Regions from separate parts of the Homo sapiens genome. Here region 1 is linked to region 2. Evidence: fine-mapped expression QTL. A gene starts in region 2. The other region holds a variant in brackets. All regions are shown on one strand. Distances are between the middles of the regions.

What was found. PIP is the estimated chance that this variant, and not a neighbour inherited with it, causes the effect.
Region 1: its variant is fine-mapped to the expression of LYSMD4 in whole blood (TOPMed, PIP above 0.99).

The regions. Positions count from the first base shown.
Region 1 is chr15:99,924,601-99,937,121 of GRCh38, reverse strand. No RefSeq gene overlaps it. Among named protein-coding and RNA genes, the nearest start is that of LYSMD4, 200 kb to the right of the region's middle. RefSeq lists a silencer at 8,683-8,742 and an enhancer at 8,464-8,758. The variant G/A (reference allele first, on the strand shown) is at 6,219.
Region 2 is chr15:99,729,679-99,739,517 of GRCh38, reverse strand. It overlaps LYSMD4 (LysM domain containing 4), which reads left to right and starts at 6,081. Exons shown (of 3, transcript NM_001284417.2): 1 at 6,081-6,173; 2 at 7,511-7,800; 3 at 9,787-9,839. The coding sequence starts at 7,519. RefSeq lists silencers at 5,752-6,481, 6,522-6,631.

The DNA.
Region 1 (12,521 bases), 200 kb before region 2:
AGGTGGGAGGACTTGTACTTCCCAGTGTCAGTGGGGTTATGTTACAGTAATCAACACAGTGTGGTTCAGGCATAAGGATACATATATAGATGAATGGCATAAAATTAAGAGTCCAGAAATAAACCTGCACATCTATGGTCAATTAATTTTTGACAAGAGTGGCAAGATCATTAAGTAGGAGAAAGAATACTGTTTTCAACATGTTGTGCTGGAACAGCTGGACATCCACACGCAAAAGAATGAATTAGAGCCTTACCTTATACCGTATACAAAAAATTAACTCAAAATGGAAAAAAGACTTAAATGTAAGAACCAAAGTAATAAAACTCCTTGAAAATACAGGTACCTTTTCATGACCTTGGATTAAATAATGGTTTATTGGCTATTATACCAGAAGCACAAGCAACCAAAGAAAAAATTAATCTATTGGACTTCATAAAACTTGAAAACTTTTCACTTCAAAAGATACTTTTCTCCCATTTTAACTTTCTTGATAGTATTTGCAAGACATATTTCTGATAAGGTTCTAACATCAAAAACATCTAAAGAACGCTCACAACAATAAAAAGACAACCACATTTAAAAAATGGGTAAAGGATTTAAATAGAATTTCTTCAATGAAGATTTTAAAATGACAAGTAGAGGAAATGCTAATCATTAGTCACCAGGGAAAAACAAATCAAAACTACAATAACATACCACTTCACACACACTAGGATGCTTATAATAATGACAGAACAAGGCCGGGCATGGTGGCTCGTGCCTGTAATCCTAGCACTTTGGGAGGCCGAGGCCGGTGGATCACATGAGATCAGGAGTTCAAGACCAGCCTGACCAACATGGTGAAACTCCATCTCTACAAAAAACAAAACAAAACAAAACAAAAAATTAGCCAGGTGGGGTGGTGTGCACCTGTAATCCCAGCTACTCGGGAGAATGAGGCAATTGCTTGAACCCAGGAGGCAGAGGTTGTAGTGAGCCGAGATTGCGCCATTGCACTCCAGCCTGTGTGACAGACTGAGACCTTGTCTCAAAATAATAATGAGAGAAAGAAAGAAAAACATTTTAAGGTTCATTCACATGATAAGAGTGAAAGAAACCAGTCACAAAGACCATATGTTTTATGCTTCCATTTATATGAAATATACAGAACAGGCAAATCTATAGAGACAGAAAGAAGATTAGTTGTTGCCTAGTAGTAGGGTATAGAATTGGGTGCTAATAAGGATGGAGTTTCCTTTTAGGGGTGACTAAAATGTTATAAAATTGACTGGTAATGGTGGTATAAATTTGAATATGCCAAAAACCACTGAATTGTACACTCTGAATGGGTCAATAGTATGGTATGTAAATTATATTTCAATAAAGCTGTTAAGAAATAAAATAAATTTAGTGGCACATGCCTACAGTCCTAGCTACTTAAGAGGCTGAGGCAAAAGGATTGCTTGAGCCCAGGAATTCCAGGCTGCAGTGATCCATGATCACATCCATGAATAGCTACTGCAACCCAGCCTTGGGAACATAGCAAGACCCTGTCTCAAATAAATAAATAAATAAAATTGGCATAATTTTTTAAGAAGAGCTGTGGTTCCTCAAAATAGCTACTTTGGAAAGCAGTGTACCTAGCATATTAGTAAGGATATAACAGGCTTTGCTGCAGGAACAAATAAACCCACATCTCAGTGACTCATATCACACCCAGTGCTGGCTGACTAGCTCTCCTGGGCAATTTCTCTGAGTGGTGACTTTGGGATCCAAGCTTCATCTTGTGACATTGCCATGTAAATATATACCCACTGAGGTCACTGTGGAAAGGCAAGAGAGAATGGATGATGGTTCAAGGGAGGTTATAGCTGGCTTGAAAGTTGTACACCTTACTTCCTCCTGCACCACAATGGCCAAACTATGGTCATATAGCTCCAATTTAATTACAAGTCATGCTGGAAAAGTCTTCCAATGTGCCCAGGGAGAGGAAAGTGAAATATGATTTGGTGAGCCCATGGCATTGTCTCTGTCCCAAATCACCCATGAAGGAAGGTCGAGGGGAGAGAGAAAGAAAAAGAAAAAAGAAACCAGCTACTGCTCAAACTTGTAGAGATCCTCTTTGGCAAATATTTTCATATGCAGTTGAAAAGAACAAATCTTCCTAACTCATAATTTTGTTTTTTGGGCTATTGACACCTTCAGGACTCACTCATTAGGTCCACTGCCTGCCAGTTACATTCCCTGCACTCCCCACACTCTTGGCGTATCTCAGTCACTCCTCATATTGCAGGTTATCTGTTTTATGTCTGTATCTAGGACCCATTGTACTCATTTCTTTACCCCAACTGGTAGCAAAAGCCCAGCACATACTAGATGGCCAAGACAAGTTTTGGGACCACGACATATGTAACCTAGTTGAGAAACACTAGGCAAACACCTCAAGAGCAAGCACAGGGTCTTATTCTGGCAACTTTGCAGTGTTCAGCACACCATAGGGATCATTTGACTGATTCTTCTCTGGCCCAACCAAAGCTAAGCAGCTGCCAAGCAGGTATGGTCATTCATCCATCCATCATTTGAGGATCAACTTTCTGCCAGGCACTGAGCTAGGTGCTGTAGATTTTAGCTTGGCCATCTCTAAATCGGAGAGCTAATGAAGATGCTGAGCCTTCACCACTCAAAGAGATCCTCTGGTGTCATTTGGGAAGAGGGAGGTTGCCCTGGAGCAGTCACCACGTCTCAGAGTCTGTTCTTAGAAGGCAAAGGGGAAGAGTTCTGCTCTAGACCTAGCCAACAGTTGGTGCTGTTGGTGTGGATGGGAGCAGAGGGAGGGGCTGGCCCTGTGATCACAGTTTTGCCCATGCTTTAGTGATGAATAGTGCGTATCCCTTCTCTGCAGCTGACATTCACTTCTTTAGGGCTTTAACTGCTCCTTTTCCTTCAGGGGCAGAGTCAACCAGTTGCTCAGTTCATGGTGTGCTAGCACAATTTCTCCATGTGAGGTCCTGCTCCTACTGTGCTTTACTTTATTCCTCTTTATCCCAATTCTCCACTCCCACCTTTGCACATTCATCCCTACTGTTGCATTTAATGTTTATCTTTCTTTTTCTCCGCACACTTGAGAAACCTGACAAGTTGATTGATAGGTATGTATTTTCAGGTTCCTACAAATGATGCAGTGTTAGAGATTTTGTCCTGCTTCTTACTTTTCTCACTCACGCTATTTTTAAGGCTGTAGCCACAGTGATGGGTGTCCACCCTGTTTGTGGCTGTGGGTCATCCATGTGACAATCTCATTTTACTCACCCATTCCCCAGTGATGGATGCCAGCCTCTAACTCCACTGTCCCCAAACAATACTGTGGTAAATCACTTCTCGGTCGCTTTGTGTGCAAGTCTTTGGGACATATGCCCAGGAACAAAATGTCTAGCACTTGAATGATACAGGTATCAATGTCACTAAGCAGAGCGAGATCCCCCTCTACAATGGCTGTACTCAGCTACCTGTCAGCCAACCACGTATGGAATATCTCAACCTTCACATCCCTGTGGCTGGCGCAGGCTCAGAGAGAGGCCAGTGTAGCTCAAGGTCTAGAGTTATCAAGGAAAAGCCATCGTTCTGAGGTCCATCTCCTGAAAGGCGGCCTCTCCTGAGTGTCATCCTGTCTCATCTTTTCCTCACCCCGGGTCCTCCCTGGTGGATATGGTTCTCCTCCTCATCCCCCAAACTTCTCATGCCCCAGCATGGGCCACCCCACCACAGACTTGGCATCTGGGGTGGGTGGACAGGAAGGGGGGTGGACTGGCCTACCCAAGGGGCAGAGCATTGGCCTTGGCAATTTGGTGCAGGAAGACAGGATCCAGGAGGGAGATGAGCTCTCACCCCGGATACGCGTTCAGAAGCAGCATTCAAGTTCCCCCTCCCAGTTTTTCATCCGATGCTCACCACGCCCCCTGGGTAACCGGGATGTGTAAAGTTGAAGAACCCCCACTCCCAAGTGAGGTGATTTGCCTCAAGGAGAGGCTGAGTTGAGGCCAGAACCTCCTTGGCTTTTTGGACATTCAGGACCCAGTGGTACAGGGGTGGGGGTGGGCCGCTTGCTCCCCAGAGAAGAGAGGGAGGAATAGAGAAAGGGGAAGAGGAGCCAGGCCAGCAACTGCAGATAAACAAGGATATTCCCAGGGCTCAGCCCCAGGGCACTTGAAAGCCAGCAGCTCAGGCAGAGGCTGTGATGGGTCCCCCAGCAGAGCTTCAGTGAAACACCACGGTGTCACCAGTCATTTGTCTCCCTGGCACAGGGCCCACTCATCTACTCTTGGCTTGGAATGAACTGGTTCCCCAGAGGAGAGGCTATCTGGCTAATTGTGCACAAACACATAGAACTTGCTGCAGTCAAGACCTGCGTGCCGACCCCACCACGCCGGCCAGTCCAGGGTCATGTGGCCGCCTCTTCACCTCCAGCAAATGAAGCTGGTACAGCTGTTGGCAGAGCCAGAAGGGGTACTTTCTAGGCACATACCTGCCCCTAGGATGGGAGGCCTTTGTATACATTTTTATTGTAGATGGGGTCTGAGACAATTTTTCTGTCCCTACTCTGGTGTCCACGGACTGTCACACCACCACTTCTGCTTTCAGGCAGAAAACCACCTCCCAGCAGGCTCCCACTGAGGACTCTCGCCTGACCTGGAAACCCCTGCTCCTCTCTCTGCTGCCATCTGCCTCAGGGAGAGTTGGGCTGGAGGAGGGAGTGGAGCAGTGGGGACAGGAAGTCCCTCGCTAGACTCAGCAAAACAGGGACCCTTGGCTTGGGTGGGCAGCTTTCTGCAGCCCCCTTTGTTTCCACCTGGAAACGTTGATTTCCCCAGTTGGACACTCAGAATCTCAAATGACATCAAGGCCACAAACAAATCTCTCCTCCTCTGCAGGGCATTCTTTTCACATGCCCTCAGAGCATGACTGAGCTTGGAGGAATTCTGAGCCATGGTTGGTTTGCTGCAAATGGGCATCGTCAGGTGTTCCTGTAGCCAGGGAAACAGGAAATGAGGACAGAGGAGAGGGGATGCCAGTAGAGCTTTGAGTCCTCGGGTTCCAAGAGGGGAGAAGATGGATGTGGCATGCGTGTCTAGGGCCCAGGCTGAAGGCCCTGAACGGCAGAGGAGACCGGGGCTACGGGGTCACGTCATGGAGCAGAAGGCCTGTGCACCAGAACGCACCATGAGGCCACCATCTGGGGGTCCACAGGGGCAGCTGAACCTCATCATGCCTAGGGTTTCTGGTCACCTCCTACCTATGCAGAGCTGTGGACAATAAGCTGGACCAGCAGTTACCACCCGAAAAGCAAGAGGAGAGCTCACCACAGTCATGCCTTGCCAGCCCCTCTTCCTGACCCCAACATTAGAACAGCAAGTGCCAAGAAGCAGGAGAGTCATGTGCAACTGCCCCTACCCCACTCTCCATCTATGGAAACACTAGGTTTAGCCTGCACTAGGTGGAGAAGGGAAGAGAGATTGACGTTTCAAAATGAGCTATCAGGGGACTTCTATTTACAGCAATATGAGAAACTAGGTAACCTGAAAGGCAACACCCACCGCAATATGCTCAGAATTGCTTGGTGCAATAGAACAGACTCTAAATGCAGAGTTCAACAGAAAGTAAAGGCCAAAAGATGAACTGGGAACCAACAATTAGGTATACAACTTCATGATCTCCCCACCCACCAGGGCTGGCATCCTCTCACTAACTCAGGGGCTTGGATTGTTTTGTTTTGCTTTTCGAGACAGAGTCTCACTCTGCCACCCAGGTTGGAGTGCAGTGGCACAATCTCAGCTCACTGCAACCTCCACCTCCCGGGTTCAAGTGATTCTCATGCTTCAGCCTCCCGAGTAGCTGGGATTACAGATGTGCATCACTATGCCTGGCTAGTTTTTATATTTATTTTTAGTAGAAATGGGGTTTTGCCATGTTGACCAGGCTGGTCTTGAACTCCTGGCCTCATGTGATCCACCCAACTTGGCCTCCCAAAGTGCCAGGATTACAGGCGTGTGCCACCATCCCTGGCCTAGGGACTTGGGTTTTAATGCTGTGAGGAATTGGAGAGGAAGCCTTGGACCTGCCCCACAACACTCATAAATGAGGGGTCCTTCAAGGGCAGGATGCACTCTCAGTAATCATCATCTAGAGAAAGTTCCCCCACTGGCAGTTATGTCAGGGATATTAGACCTGGCCTGGGCTCT[G/A]AGTAGGGAAAATGATTCTCCTATCAATTTGTCATCACAGGCCCATACTCATGTGATGGGATTAGGCTGTATATGACATGCATGGGCCAGAAAATCCCCAGGTCAAAACATTGGTATGCAAAGCAGTCCTGGGCTGGTGATAACGCCAAGCACCTGGCTGAAGCAAACCCAAAAGCACTCTGGAGGCACCCACTCTCATGTAAGGTACAGAAGATTCCAATAGATGAAGTCCCCATTAAGACCAGCTCACAATCCCAAATTACAAAACACTGGCAACTCCAAGTCAATAAACTTCAGGGATGGAAAGCCAGTAGAATGATCAAAACAGAGCCTACAAGATAAATTGGCTTAAAATTACTAAAGACCTAAAATGAGAAATAAAAACAGAAAAAAAGAATCAAGATACATGAAAAAATAGGTAAATTTTAAAAAGTATTTCCAGAAAGTAAAATTTTAAAAATATAATTACTGAAATAATAGAAATACCTCTGCAGATGGGTTACCGCTGATTCTCAAAGTTTATCACACCTGAGGATCCCCTGGAGGGCTTCTTAAACACAGACTGCAGGGCCACCTCCAGAGTTTCTGGGGCAGGGCCTGAGAATTTGCATTTATAAGAAGTACCCAGGTGAAGCTGCACTGATGATCTGGGGACAACGGGTTAGCTGATTAACTCTGGCCAAAGACAAAATTCTGACTGACCAAAAGTAGTTGACAAGTTAGTGAATAAAGTTGGGTTATTTTAATAGGTCTTCTATCCAGGGGAAAGGAGTTTCAATCAGCACACAGTTGAAAGCAGTAACTGAGAAAAATAAAACCATGTCCACGTGCATGTTTCAAATACACTGTCAGGATTTTCAATAGTCTAAGTAGTCTGTATCTTGTCCAAGGTTACAAGAGACAAAGAACATTATATATTGAGAAGAGATTCAATACAGCAAGAATAAGTAGTTATAAACATTTAGCACTTAACAGAATATGCAAAGCAGAAAGGGAGCGAATTGGAGGGAAAAGTAGTTCTACAATAATCGTCGGAGACCTCAGTCCCCCACTTTCAATAATGGAAAGAACAACCAGACAGAAGATAAGAAAGGAAATGAGAGGACTTGAACAACACAGCAAGCCAAGTGGACCTAACACACACCACCAGGCCCCCAGTGCATTTCAGCTGAGGCCTCTGGACACGAGGCCCACGACAGGTGTCTTAGTGGGCCCACGACTGCTGTGACAAATTACCACAAACTTGCTGGCTTCCAACAACACACGTTTATGATCTTACAGTCCTGGAGGTCGAAAGAGTAAAAAGAGGTCTCACTGAGCTGAAATGAAGCTGCTGGCAGGGCTGCGTTTCTTTCCGGAGGTTCGTTGGGAGAACCTAGTCCCTTACCTTTTCCAGCTGCTAGGCAGAGGCCGCCCTGTTCCGTGGCCCGTCCTCCATCCCCAAAGCCAGAAAAACCGGGCTGAGACCTCCTGGTGCTGTCGGCCTTCTCTGTTCTCTGTTCTCTCTCTTTCTTTCTCTCGCCTCTCTTCCTTATAAGGACAGGTGATTGCATTGGGCCCACCTGGGTGACCCAGGCTAATCTCCTTACCCATTAAGCTCCCCATCCTCAGCCTTTTCTTCTGTCAGATGGAGAATATAATCCCCTAGTTTTAGGGAATTTTGAGGAATAAATCGGATTACTAAACTGTGAGTTCCTTGAGTCAATAAAGATTAACTGAGCACTTACTGTGTGTAAGGCAACTTTCCTAAGTGCTAGGGATACGACAGTGAACAAAACACACAAAAATGCGTGTTTCTGTCTGTGTGTGCAATTAATCTACCTTAATTCCATCCGCAACTGTAATTCCCTTTTGCCATGTAAGGGGACAAATTCACAGGCTCTGGGGAGTAGGATGTGGACACCCTTGGGGCGTTTATTCTGCCTTCCGCAGTGGAGGACTGCAGACGCTGTGGGCGAAATGTTTGGAGCTGGTGCCATTAAAACCCTCTGCAGTTCCCGCTCAAGGTGCAACTCTCAAGTACTGGCACCTGGGTTTGCGGCCACGTGAGGCTCTGAGCAGCATGGGCCTTGGGGACACTGAAGATATCAGAGGCCCTAGAGGTATGTGTGGCTTCCCAGGTTAAAGTTGGCACGGAGAGAGAAGAGCGTGGCAAGTCAGGCAAACCCGGTGAACTCCCTTTGTCAGCCTTCCTTCCGTCTGCCACAAGGAAGGCCTGTACCAGAACCCAGGGCCTTCTGGGCTGAGAGGCCGCAGCCTGCATTGGAAGGCCACTGAGTCACGGACGTGGGAAGATGACCATCGGTGTCCGAGACGCGAGTATAAAGCCAGGCGCTGCCACTCACCAAGCTGCGCGATCTCGGGCGAGCAGCGCTTCGCCAGGCTCGGCCCACGGCGACGCCACAGTGCCACCTGCCGGCCGGACGCCCTCGCTCGCGCACCCCGCCCTCCTCACTCGCGCACCCCGCCCTCCTCACTCGCGCACCCCGCCCTCCTCACTCGCGCACCCCGCCCTCCTCACTCGCGCACTCCCCCGCCCTCCTCACTCGCGCACTCCCCCGCCCTCCTCACTCGCGCACTCCCCCGCCCTCCTCACTCGCGCACCCCGCCCTCCTCACTCGCGCACCCCGCCCTCCTCACTCGCGCACCCCGCCCTCCTCACTCGCGCACCCCGCCCTCCTCACTCGCGCACTCCCCCGCCCTCCTCACTCGCGCACTCCCCCGCCCTCCTCACTCGCGCACTCCCCCGCCCTCCTCACTCGCGCACTCCCCCGCCCTCCTCACTCGCGCACCCCTCCCTCCTCACTCGCGCACTCCCCCGCCCTCCTCACTCGCGCACTCCCCCGCCCTCCTCACTCGCGCACTCCCCCGCCCTCCTCACTCGCGCACTCCCCCGCCCTCCTCACTCGCGCACCCCGCCCTCCTCACTCGCGCACTCCCCCGCCCTCCTCACTCGCGCACCCCGCCCTCCTCTCTCGCGCACCCCGCCCTCCTCACTCGCGCACTCCCCCGCCCTCCTCACTCGCGCACCCCGCCCTCCTCTCTCGCGCACCCCGCCCTCCTCACTCGCGCACCCCGCCCTCCTCACTCGCGCACTCCCCCGCCCTCCTCACTCGCGCACCCCTCCCTCCTCACTCGCGCACTCCCCCGCCCTCCTCACTCGCGCACTCCCCCGCCCTCCTCACTCGCGCACTCCCCCGCCCTCCTCACTCGCGCACTCCCCCGCCCTCCTCACTCGCGCACCCCGCCCTCCTCACTCGCGCACCCCGCCCTCCTCACTCGCGCACTCCCCCGCCCTCCTCACTCGCGCACCCCGCCCTCCTCACTCGCGCACTCCCCCGCCCTCCTCACTCGCGCACCCCGCCCTCCTCTCTCGCGCACCCCGCCCTCCTCACTCGCGCACTCCCCCGCCCTCCTCACTCGCGCACCCCGCCCTCCTCTCTCGCGCACCCCGCCCTCCTCACTCGCGCACTCCCCCGCCCTCCTCACTCGCGCACTCCCCCGCCCTCCTCACTCGCGCACCCCGCCCTCCTCACTCGCGCACTCCCCCGCCCTCCTCACTCGCGCACTCCCCCGCCCTCCTCACTCGCGCACCCCGCCCTCCTCACTCGCGCACTCCCCCGCCCTCCTCACTCGCGCACTCCCCCGCCCTCCTCACTCGCGCACCCCGCCCTCCTCACTCGCGCACTCCCCCGCCCTCCTCACTCGCGCACCCCGCCCTCCTCTCTCGCGCACCCCGCCCTCCTCACTCGCGCACTCCCCCGCCCTCCTCACTCGCGCACTCCCCCGCCCTCCTCACTCGCGCACCCCTCCCTCCTCACTCGCGCACTCCCCCGCCCTCCTCACTCGCGCACTCCCCCGCCCTCCTCACTCGCGCACTCCCCCGCCCTCCTCACTCGCGCACTCCCCCGCCCTCCTCACTCGCGCACCCCGCCCTCCTCACTCGCGCACTCCCCCGCCCTCCTCACTCGCGCACCCCGCCCTCCTCTCTCGCGCACTCCCCCGCCCTCCTCACTCGCGCACCCCTCCCTCCTCACTCGCGCACTCCCCCGCCCTCCTCACTCGCGCACTCCCCCGCCCTCCTCACTCGCGCACTCCCCCGCCCTCCTCACTCGCGCACTCCCCCGCCCTCCTCACTCGCGCACTCCCCCGCCCTCCTCACTCGCGCACTCCCCCGCCCTCCTCACTCGCGCACCCCTCCCTCCTCACTCGCGCACCCCGCCCTCCTCACTCGCGCACTCCCCCGCCCTCCTCACTCGCGCACTCCCCCGCCCTCCTCACTCGCGCACCCCGCCCTCCTCACTCGCGCACCCCGCCCTCCTCACTCGCGCACCCCGCCCTCCTCACTCGCGCACCCCGCCCTCCTCACTCGCGCACTCCCCCGCCCTCCTCACTCGCGCACCCCGCCCTCCTCACTCGCGCACCCCGCCCTCCTCACTCGCGCACCCCGCCCTCCTCTCTCGCGCACCCCGCCCTCCTCACTCGCGCACCCCGCCCGGCAGTGCGGCCCGCACCCGCCCCCTCCCGAGCACCCTGGCGCGCACTTAGCCAGTACCTGCGCGTGCACCTCGGCGTTCAACGCGGCCTTTGCGGCGGCTCTCCCCTTGGACCTGAGGCTTCCCGCTTCGTTCTAGAGTGAAGGCTGGAAGAGCCCAGACAGGAAGGTGTCAGCTCTGTCCCACACCCAGGTGGCCTGTGCTGTCCCTTAAGTACAGCAGCAACAACGTCACCTGGGGAGGAAAGCTTCATGGAGCTCACCAGATTTGCAGGGGTGAAAGATGGAGGGAGGAGGGGAGTTGGATTCCTATACTAGTTTTTATCTGGATAACTTCTGAGCCAAGCACAGCTTTGTGAGCCTCTAGAGACCCCCTAACCTACTTGCATCAACTGGACATAAAGAGGGGAGCCCAATAGCAACTGCATCCATTCTAAAACCAAAAGCTACTGTTATTCGCCAGGCATGGTAGTAAGTGTCCTATGAGTGTTAATTCATCCATCAAACATTCTTTGAGCTTCCCCTCTGAGCCAGATCGTGTCTAGGTGCCTGGGATGCAGAGGTAGCGAACGTGCCCACACAGGCATACACACGCATTCCTATCCCCTCTACTTCGTCGGCGCTGTTGTTTGACATAGGAATTACTACCACCTAAAACACTATATATTTTACTTTATTTTTCTTATATTATTGTCTGCTACCACACATGTATGCCTGTGGACATCCACACCAACCCCCACACACACACAGACACATTTTTTGTGTGTTTTGTTCACTTTTGTATCCCTAGCACTTAGGAAAGTTGCCTTACACACAGTAAGTGCTCACTCTTTATCAGCTCAAGGAACTCACGATTTGGTAATCTGATGTATTCCTCAAAATTCCCTAAAACTAGGGGATTATATTGTTCATTTGACAGAAGAAAAGGCTGAGGATGGGGAGTGGCCTGCATGGACTGATTCAACTCTTAGCAGTGGAGATGGGAGGCAGACCCAGGTCTGCTGATCCTAAATCCTGTCCTCTGAGTGTCCCCCATAAGCTAATTACTGGAGAAAGCAGAAAGAAAAGAAACCACTATTATCAGCATTGCTTTTCATTTTATTAATCTGAAGAGTGAACACAGTGAAAGCAGGCAGCTACATGTTAGCTGTAGACTGTAGACCACATCTGTTCAAGAATCCCTCCGAGATCATTACATATAAAAATGGCAAATAAAATAATTTTAGCTTTATTTATTTATTTAAAGTTCTACTGAGATAGCAATAAAATAAGGAAAACAATGAGAGGGCAGAAATTCCATTGGAATCAAAATCCTGTATGAGTGAGCTGAATTTTGTCCTGAAGGCTTCTGCTGGTTTCCAGTCGCCTAGAACCACAGTTACACTGAACTATGCTGGGTACAAATGACCAAAGTAAGAGGGGAGCTGGGCTGGAGGAAGAGTTCTGACCAGAGACCCCTGCATAAAGTCAGAAATCCCAGAACTCAATACCTTCAGTGGGTGAGCACAGAAGCAAAGAAATAAAACATTCCCCTAACACATTCCTAACCATCTGTCCCTATTTGACTAGGAAGAGGGCAAGAATCTACACTTTTTGTGAAAATTGAAGCCCCCTCGCAAATAGAAAGTTTTGGGTTTGGTGTTTTTTGTTTGTTTTTTGAGATGGAGTCTCACTGTGTCACCCAGGCTGGAGTGCAGTGGCGTGATCTCGGCTCACTGCAAGCTCTGCCTCCCGGGTTCACACCATTCTCCTGCCTCAGCCTCCCGAGTAGCTGGGACTACAGACGCCCGCCACCATGCCCGGCTAAT
Region 2 (9,839 bases):
TTTCTCATGAATTCCTGAAGTTGGCAATATCTCTGGAGCTATGAGCTCTCACACTCATAGCCATGTTTCTTCCAAGGGCTTCACTTCTCACAGTCACTTGACAACAAGCAGAAGTCAGGAAGTTTTCTTCTTTCTATTTCATGGAAATGCAAATTCCACACTGGCAATAACCAGTGGATTTTCCTGAGTCATTAGAGAACCCACAACTTAAGGAACCAAATCCAGACTACTAGATACTGCAGAGCAGGGATGGCAAATCAGTTTCCCCTCCCCTGACAATATTGCTTGATTGGTCATGGCTGTCTTGGATACTGACGGCCATCTGGGCCTCTGCAATGAACTGGCAAAGTCTGCTGGGGGGTCCGTGGGGAGCAGGTGCCAGGTACACAGTCCATGGGCAAATTGTCTATTAGTCCGTTCTTACACTGCTATAAAGAGCTACCTTCGACTGGGTAATTTATGAAGAAAAGAGGTATAATTGACTCACAGTTCTGAAGGCTTAACAGGAAGCATGACTGGGAGGCCTCAGGAAACTTACAAACATGGCAGAAGGTGAAGCAAGCACCTTCTTCATATGGCAGCAGGAGAGAGAGAGTGAGGGGAATATTTAAAACATCACACACACATTTAAACCACCAGATCTCATGACAACTCACTCACTATCATGAAAAGAGCATGGGGGAAATCCGCCCCCATGATCCAATCACCTCCTAACAGATCCCTTCCCCAACACTGGGAATGACAATTCAACAAGATATTTTGGTGGGGACACAGAGCCAAACCATATCACTGTCACACAGAGAGGTGTAGGGTGTGTCCAGACACTACGAGGAGGGAAGGAGTGTTTCTAATAATTGTGCTGTGACGATAGGCATGCTCTGGGATTGTTTTGGACAGAAAGAATGTATGGTCACCCCAAGCATAGGGAACAACACAGTGGCAGTGGAAAACCAAAGTCCAGAAGGCTTACAGGACTCAGTCAAGGTCACACAGCCACTGAATGCAGAGCTGGCTTTGGACTCACCTCATCTCCCAACGTGCTAACCTGCTGTGCAGCCTCAGGCAGGTCCCCTCACGTCTCTGGGTCTTAAATTCCTCTCTATAAAATGAGCAGTTGTAGCTTAAGAAATTCTAATGACTTTGATAACACAGTTCTCTGCTCTCCACCCACTGGATTTTTGACACATTTTGTGAAAGCCAGCCACTCAGTGAGCACCTGCTACTTTTCTTCTCTCCCTACCCTTGCTAGGGCTCCAAGGGAGGTCGGGCACAGGCATGAGGTGACACAGCTTTGGCACCTGGGCGGCATGTCTGCTTGTGCAGGTTTAGTCCCAGCTTTCTTGGGGCCACAGTAGTGGAGTCCTTGGTGGACATGACCTTGGCACACTTCAGTAGACAAGTCATGTCACTCTTAACACTTCTCATCTGGCCTCAGGAAACTCAGGCCAGAGATACTATAACTCAGCCAGTCAAGCCAAGGCCTGGGGAGAGAACTTGGGGATGTTTCTGGGGAAAATGTTGACCAGGTGAACAGGCTTCCTGGGTGGGGCTGAGTCAGCAGTGAAAGCAAAAATGGGCTCTGCTCAGAAGTTTTCACAAGATTGGGGCTATGGAGCCACAGTCTGGGGTTTTATCCTGTCTCCTGTACTTACTAGCTATGACATCTTGAGCAAGTAACTTCATCTTTGTGCATAAGCATATAAATTAGGAATTTATTCAGCTGCTAGTGATAGAGATCCTAACAGCATCTTAAACATGAGGACATTTATTTCTCTTTTACACCCCATCCACCATTCTGCTCTGCCATCCTTACTTAGTACATGGATTCCACCTCATGGTCCAAGATGACTGCATGTGCTCTGGCCATCACATCTTTATTCCAGGCAGCAGAGAGGCAGGGAGAATAAAAAAAAGGCACTCACATTTCAGAGCTTTTCCAGATCTCCCCCTTTTAAGGACTTCTTCAGTAGTCCCGCTCACATTTTCTTCTTTGACCTCATTGTCTAGAACTTATTCACATGCGTACAACCCACTGCAAGGAGGGCTGATATGTGGTCTTGGCTTGGCATGCTGATGCCCCCAATAATGTTGGGGTTCTCTTTCTAAAGGAAAAGATGAGAATTGATATTAGGTGGCAAACTTGCAATTTCTCCCCTAGTGAGTTTTTCCAACTGTAAGTTGAGGATTATAATAGTTCCCACCTCACACGGGTGTTGTACTCAGTAAGGACTCAATAAACATTAGCTAAATTATTGTACATCAGGAGAAAGTGAAATGCAAAAGGCAAATAATGTTGGCATTACTATGAACATCGTTTGGACATCACAGACTCCGGGATCCCTAGAACACACTTGGAGAACTGCTGCCTTGACAATCACTTAATTCCTGGGCAGTCCAGCCGGCCAAGTCCTCATATGACCTTGAAAGGACACAGCCATTCTTTTGCCTTTACAAAGTTTATATAATTTTTGCTCACATGCATGACCTTGTTTCTTTGGAAGATCTTGCACCATCTGTAATGACCTTTTCTGTGTATGTCTTTGATTTTCCATCTTCCTTCTGGCAATTGTAAGGCTATGAGGCCTTATCAGCCTTATACAGCCAATCAAAGTTGACCTTATAGCTTTGTCCGCCACTGTGCCCCAGCACACGGAAGGAGTGCCACAGACATAAGCTTGACAGTGCTGAACTCTACCCAAACCTTGTGCTCCTGGAAAACAGTGGGGTTTAAGAAATTCCTCCACCCTTTGTCTTCTGGAAAACACCTACTACAAAGAACTCCCTTCTCCATATGACTTAGGTAAGACCCACAAATGCCACCCTGGTTTACCTATGACAAGGCCAGCCCCAGACCCTCCAAATTCCTTTTATCTCATAAATAATTAGTGAAACTGCTTGACCCCAGTAATCAATTGGAACAAAATGCTTGCTAACCAAACTTTGATTAGGCTTCTCTCTTCCCCTAGCCCACTGAATAAACCTTGACTCCACCACAACCTGAGCCAGCATAAGCTCTTCCTGAGACTTGGCTGACCCCAGGGTAGAACATTCTCTGATCTACTACCAGATCCCACCACCCTTTCATCCCGCTTCCCCATACCGTGCTCTTTCTAGCTTTGTTACTTCGCTGTGAAAGGAGAACTTTCTGTCTAACTCTTGAGATGTTACAGAGCTTATGGTCAGAAGTTCTCCCCATTGCAATAGTCCCTCCCACCACCTTGCAATAATCTTTTGGAATAAACTTTATCCTAAGTCTGGATTTATTTTGTACTGGACACACTGAATGAATGAAACAACCATAACTGATCAGAAAGCAGCAATACTAATCCAGCTTTACAAATTCTGTTGTGACTTTTCTTGCCATTAGTCACACTTTGAAATTCTGACTCCTGGATTTGCCAAACCCACCGGGCCATGGCCAGGTGCCTTGGGCCCGAAGTACAGCTGGTGGCTGAGAGCCAGGCCTCTGGAATAGACACACTAGGATTTGGATTTTGGTGCTCTCAACTCAGGATTTTAATCCTTTGTCGGGATGCATTTATTTTCCCCAGATAATATGCTTTTTAATTTTAGTTTGCCTTCCCGTATCCTGGGTCAGGTCATCAGAACAGCTCTCCTAATGAGCCCACATTGAATGAGCACCTCTAGACGCCGCCACTCAGCTGGGCCTTGGAAGTTGTATGGGGACAGTAGTATTCTGGCAATAAATGACAAGTAAATGAACTAGGAAGTACTATGAAGAAACCGTGTTCTCACAGAGCACTAAGGGAGCACCTACATATACCCGCTGGACAGGGGAGAACTCACTGAGAAGATGACTTACTTTGAGGCCTGAGGCTCAGACAGTCCAGTAATGCAAGCAGCTTGAGAGAAGGAGCCTTGAAGCCTGTATTAGGTTCTCCAGAGAGACAGAACCAATAGGAGATACCTATCTATCTACAGATACAGAGTCAGGTCCTCCAGAGAGACAGAACCGATAGGAGATATCTACCTATCTACAGATACAGAGTCAAGTCCTCCAGAGAGACAGAACTGATAGGAGCTATCTAATCTATCTATCTATCTATCTATCTATCTATCTATCTATCTATCTACCTACCTACCTACCAATAGGAGATATCTGTCTATCTATCTATATATCTATTTCTACCTATAGAGAGAGACACAAAGTGAGTGAGTGAGAGAGAGGAGATTAGACTTGGCTCACACAATTAAGGAGACTGAAAGTCCCGGGACAGGTGGGTCTGCAAGCTGGAGACCCTGGGATGCAGATAATATGGTTCAGTGCAGGTCCAAAAACATCAGAACCAGGGAAGCTGATGATGTCACTCTCATTCCAAGGCCAGAGTCTTGAGAACCCTGGGGGTTAGGGGAGGGTAAGTCCTGGAGTCCAGACCATTTTGGGCTTTGTCCACGAAGATTAACAATTTGACTTTTAGTTTAAGTGGGTGTATTAGTCCGTTTTCATCCTGCTGATAAACACATACCCGAGACTGGGCAAAAGAAAGAGGTTTAATGGACTCACAGTTCCACCTGGCTGGGGAGGCCTCACAATAATGGCTGAAGGTGAAAGGTGCATCTCACATGGCAGCAGATAGAAGAAAAGAACTTGTGCAGGGCAACTTCCCTTTATAAAACCATCAAATCTAGTGAGACTCATTCGCTATCTGGAGAACAGCACAGAAAACACCTGCTCCCATGATTCAATCACCTCCCACCAGGTCCCTCCCACAACAGGTGGAAACTGTGGGAGCTACAATTCAAGATGAGTTTTGGGTGTGGACACAGTCAAATCCTATTAGTGGGAAAAGGTTTGTGAGATCTTGTTTTAATGTTTGCTTTGTTGTTTAATCTGATTGCAAGTGAGGGTTAAAAACATTTTCAACCTGTTGACCATTTGCATTGTTTGCTGAATTATCTGCTCCTGTCTCTCTGAGGTCTCCCTCAGACCTGCTGAGGTCTTAGCATCTTTCCTATTCATATGAAGTCTCTCTCAGCGAAGGATTTTAATCCTTTGTTGTGTTCAGTTTATTTTCCCTAGGTTATCTGCTTTTTAATTTTGGTTTTCCTTTTTAAGTAGAAGCTCTGAACTTTGTGCCTTAGTGTGTGAGGTTTTTGTTTTTGTTTTTTTTTGAGATGGAGTCTCCCTCTGTTGCCCAGGCTGGAGTGCAGTGGCACGATCTCGGCTCACTGCAACCTCCGCCTCCGGGTTCAAGCAATCCTCTGTCTCAGCCTCCTGAGTAGCTGGGATTACAGGCGCCCGCCACCATGCCCGGCTAACTTTTTTATTTTTTTTTATTTTTATTTTTTTAGTAGAGACGGGGTTTCACCATCTTGGCCAGGCTGGTCTCGAACTCCTGACCTCGTGATCCACCAGCCTCGGCCTCCCAAAGTGCTGGGATTACGGGCGTGAGCCACCGCGCCCGGCCAGTGTGTGAGAATTCTTCCACCACTTTTCATCTTAAGAAATCCTCGGCCACCTGACATTTGATAAACACGACTTAAGTTTTCTTGGTCCCTGTTGTCCGCATCCATGTTTTACACTCGTGGATTTCTGTTTTCTTCTCGGGGTGGGGCAATGCCTCCCCTGGTGCGGCCCTCAAAGGCCCAGGAGCGCAGATCCCGCCGCAGAAAGACCCCTCGCCCATCTGCGCCCAGCCCTTCCCCGCAGGAGGGCTCAGGGGACCCCACGCTACTGGAATCCACCCCGAGTCACAGCTACAGATCATTACCCACAAGTGGGGTCAAAGGCCTCTTTACGGGCGAGAAAGCTGCGGCTCAGCAGAAAGCCAAGCACTTTGGGAGGGAGGAGCTGAGGTGCCTTATTACTCCGAACAGACGCGAAAACAAGCCAGGGCCCGCGCGGGTAGACCTGGTAGGCGGGTGGGCGGGGCGAGGGCCACTTCCGGGGTGTGGAACCCTGTCGAGCCCCGCCCCGAGCCCCGCCCCGAGCCCCGCCCCGGGCCCTGTGGTCCCGGGATGAGCTCTCCGCGCAGCCAGGCTCGCTCCAGTGCCCGCCCAGCGCTGACTTCATTGGCTGCCTCCCCAGTCCCGCCCCCAGGGGGGCCCTGCTGATGTTCGTAGCCAATCCGCAGGCGCGGTGGCAGCTGCGGGTCGCGGGTCGCGGGTCGCGAGTCGCCGGTCGCCGGTCGCGGCGGAGCCTGGGCGCTGAGGTACCGGGGCCTGGACGAGGGGGCCGCGGTCTGGCTAGGGAGCCGCGCGGGCTCATGGCGGTACGGCGACCTGGCCTCGCTCGAGGGTTCGCGGGCGGGCCGCCCCTCCCCGGGCTCCTAGGGGGACGCTCCAGCTGGAGGGGCGGTGACCGCGACTGTCGTGGGCTGGCCCCAGGTGGCTAGGGTTGGGGGTCAGAGGTCAGAGGTTCTGCCCTCTGGAATGTTAGGGCCCCGCCCGTGGAGCCGTGGAGCCCTGGGGCCGGGCCGCTCCCCATTTTCCTGTCAGCTCTTGTTGAGGTGCCCCATCTTTTCGCAGAAGGGACTTGGAGGGAAGCGGGCCTGGAGCTGCTGCCGCCGCCCCTGAGCTCGGACGCGAAGGCTGGCCCCGTCCCCGGGCTGCCGCCGTGGTCCTGCAGGTGACCCTCAACCCCCCGAGGACCGCCGGCCGCCTCCCGCCTCCGGGCAGGCTCAGGAGCGCGCGGAGCGGGGTGTGGGCCTGTGACCCTCGAAGGCGTGGGCGGGGAGTAGGGGGTCGAGCTGGGGCCGCAGGCTGTCCCCGTACGGGCTGCTCCCCTGTGGCTCCGAAGCCACCTTTTTCTGAAGTTGTCAGCCCGCGTGTTTGAGATTTCGTTTCTGGAATCTCACGCGAACAATCTGGAGAGAGGAACAGGGGTCTTGCGGCTTTGGCTGTTGACTCAAGGGGAAAATAAAAACCAGACAATGGGGATGTAATGAATGCAAAGTGACCCGTGAGCAAACTGGACGCTTTTCTCCGGCTGACAGGCATGAGTTCTCCCCGTAGCTTGCCCCACATACTGTGAGTTAAACTGTGTCAAAGTAAGAGCAGTTTAGCCCCACAGTTCTGAGCAAGAGTCCTTAGCGCTGACCTTCTTAGTGAAGATACTTTGCAATGTGTAAAATATTGAATACAAAATTATTGTGCAAAGCTTCTGAGTTGAAGATTCTGAGTGCGCGGAGGCTGGCGGCAGCCCTTACTTGCCATTGCAAGGATCTCAACTTACTACTCTGAGAGCAAAAGTAGTTGTTTCTTTACAGATGTGGGTTTAGGGGAGACAGCTATGGATGAGGAACAGGGGCGGGGTTCGTTTTCTGCACAAAACGTATGCGATTAGAAAAAACAAAGGGTTTTTATTCTGCCTATCTTCTTCCATCTCAGCCAGCATAAGCACATTCTTTTTTTTCTGTTGATGATGTATGCTGAGTATTTGCAGCGATTAGGAAAAGGAATACTCTCTAACAAGACACTTCTCTTTAAACGAGGCGGTGGAGGGATGATTATGTCTTCTGTGGAATTAACCCTCCGGCTTGATTTTCAGTGAAGAAAATGAGGCACGAGGAATTGTTAACCAAGACCTTCCAAGGCCCAGCTGTTGTGTGTGGGACTCCGACCAGCCACGTATACATGTTTAAGAATGGCAGTGGGGACTCGGGGGACTCTTCTGAAGAAGAGTCTCACCGTGTGGTTTTGCGGCCCCGGGGCAAGGAGCGCCACAAGAGCGGTGTCCACCAGCCTCCCCAGGCGGGAGCAGGTGACGTGGTGCTGCTGCAGCGGGAGCTGGCCCAGGAGGACAGCCTCAACAAGCTGGCGCTGCAGTATGGCTGCAAAGTAAGACACCCCTCAGGGGCCCTGCCCCGCTCCGTTTCAAGGAACACGGGGAACTCACTGCAGGGTGGGTGCCCTTGCCGCCCTTCTTAACCCTGCCAGGCCGTCAGGAGAGGCCTGCTGTAGCAGCCAAGGACTCCCCTATTTAGCCAGAATTGGAATGCAGGTGGGAGTACCTTTAGTTCCCAACCCTGGCCCCCAAAGAGGGAGGGTTAGCGCATTTCTTTCTCTGCAGGGAACTTCTCCTTTTCCTGTTTTCTCCACACTGAAATTCTGAAACCTTTTTTCTTCTTTCGAGCACATTTTATTTTAGACCTAATGGGGCTGGAGATACCAGGCAGAATTTAATTCCGGATTTCTATGGTATGCTTGCTTTTCTCGCTGCTCTTATTTTTCTGAACCTTTCTTGGTGGTAGCTTACTTGACTTTTGGTAAAGTTTTACCTTCTCTCGTTTAGAACTGCATGGTCTTTTGTATGCTGTGTATCTATATAACCCTGTTTTTCTCTAATTATGTTTTCAGCATTCAGAGTGATTAACAATGGCAAAGTAAGTAGGAAAGTATTTCTAGAATTGCTGCATTTTCTCCTAGATTGCAACTGTTTCACTTTGCTAACACTGTGCTACAGATTTGTATGGCCTTCTCTAGGGGTATATAAGCTACTTAATTTAAGAAATCTCTTTCTCCTACAAGTGTCTTATCTAACAAGGTCCAAATGTCTGAAACATGTTGTGTGGGGTGTTGCGGTCTTTCAGGGAAATAAACAGGTTGGTCTCCGGGGACACATAGTGGTCTTTAAATTGTACTGACAATTATATTTGGCTCCGATAAGCAGCTTCTGCAGGCATACTGTGTGGCTTACAGAACATGGGCTGAAAAATGAAGCCTGTCCTACAAAGACCGGAATAGATGGAGTAGGCTTCTTGGTATGGTGATGTCTAAATCCGTAAAGAATATATAAAGCCTTTGATAAGTGATCAGTTTTCCTATTTGAAGTAAATAAATTTGCTCTTAATTTATTGAAGGCAGAGACAGAAAGATCTCAAGGGTCTCATGCATTAGATTCAGGACATAGTGAATTAAAAATGTCCCCTACCCCAAATCAGTTACAATAACAGCAGTTGCTGAATAATAATGGAAATGATTGATTTGATTGAGATCTGTTGGCTGTATTCACTTTCTAGTTTAAGTGGACTTAAGTGTTAAAAGTTTGGAGTTCATCTCTGATGCTTTTGGAAAGTTTTCAAACATTAGTTTGAGGGAGGGGTTACCCTTTGACTTACATTCTCCCTGCTTCTTAAATCTTCGTGTTTGATTATGAGAGGAGTTTGTCATGAACTTTGTTACTTGATAAAACTCACAGCATTATTCCTTTTTCCTGACAGTTAAGTACAGTAACTGTAAGTCACTTTTATTTAATAAGTTTACATGCCCCACAGTGTTTCTGGGAAAGAAAATGCCGAGGGCATATCTGTCAACTTTATTACAGGTAAACTGGATTTTGAGTGTGTCTGCAGAGCTGGCTGAGGCTGTGTGTTTGGTGAATGCTAACATCTGGCAGCCACTGAGTTCTGGCATGAGGGGGAAGGCAGGCAGATGGGGGCACTATTGCCTCAAAAGTGAAAGGTGGAAAAGGCTGCAACATTCCTTTCAGTGCCATGGTGGTTTCGCCCAAAGCGATTTGTTGCAGTCACACTTTAAACAGTTTAAGAAAGATCTGTTTTTCAAAACTGATCTTAAATTGTTCAAACCTGTAAATCTTTAGGAATATCTGATTACTAAACTATATATTGAGGTTGAGTGAAAGCCAAAAAAACAAAATTTCAGCCTAAACTAACTTTGTGTACAGCTGCAGTTTTCCAGTCTTCATCAGATTCGTCAGTGAAGTGGGCTTGAATCATCACCCAGAAAGATTAAGAGCCACTTTTTGGAAAGTTATTTTTAAGGAGCTCCGCATATTTTATGATGTTTATCTTCGTGCCTTCCTAGGTTGCAGATATCAAGAAAGTCAACAACTTCATCAGAGAACAAGACTTATATGC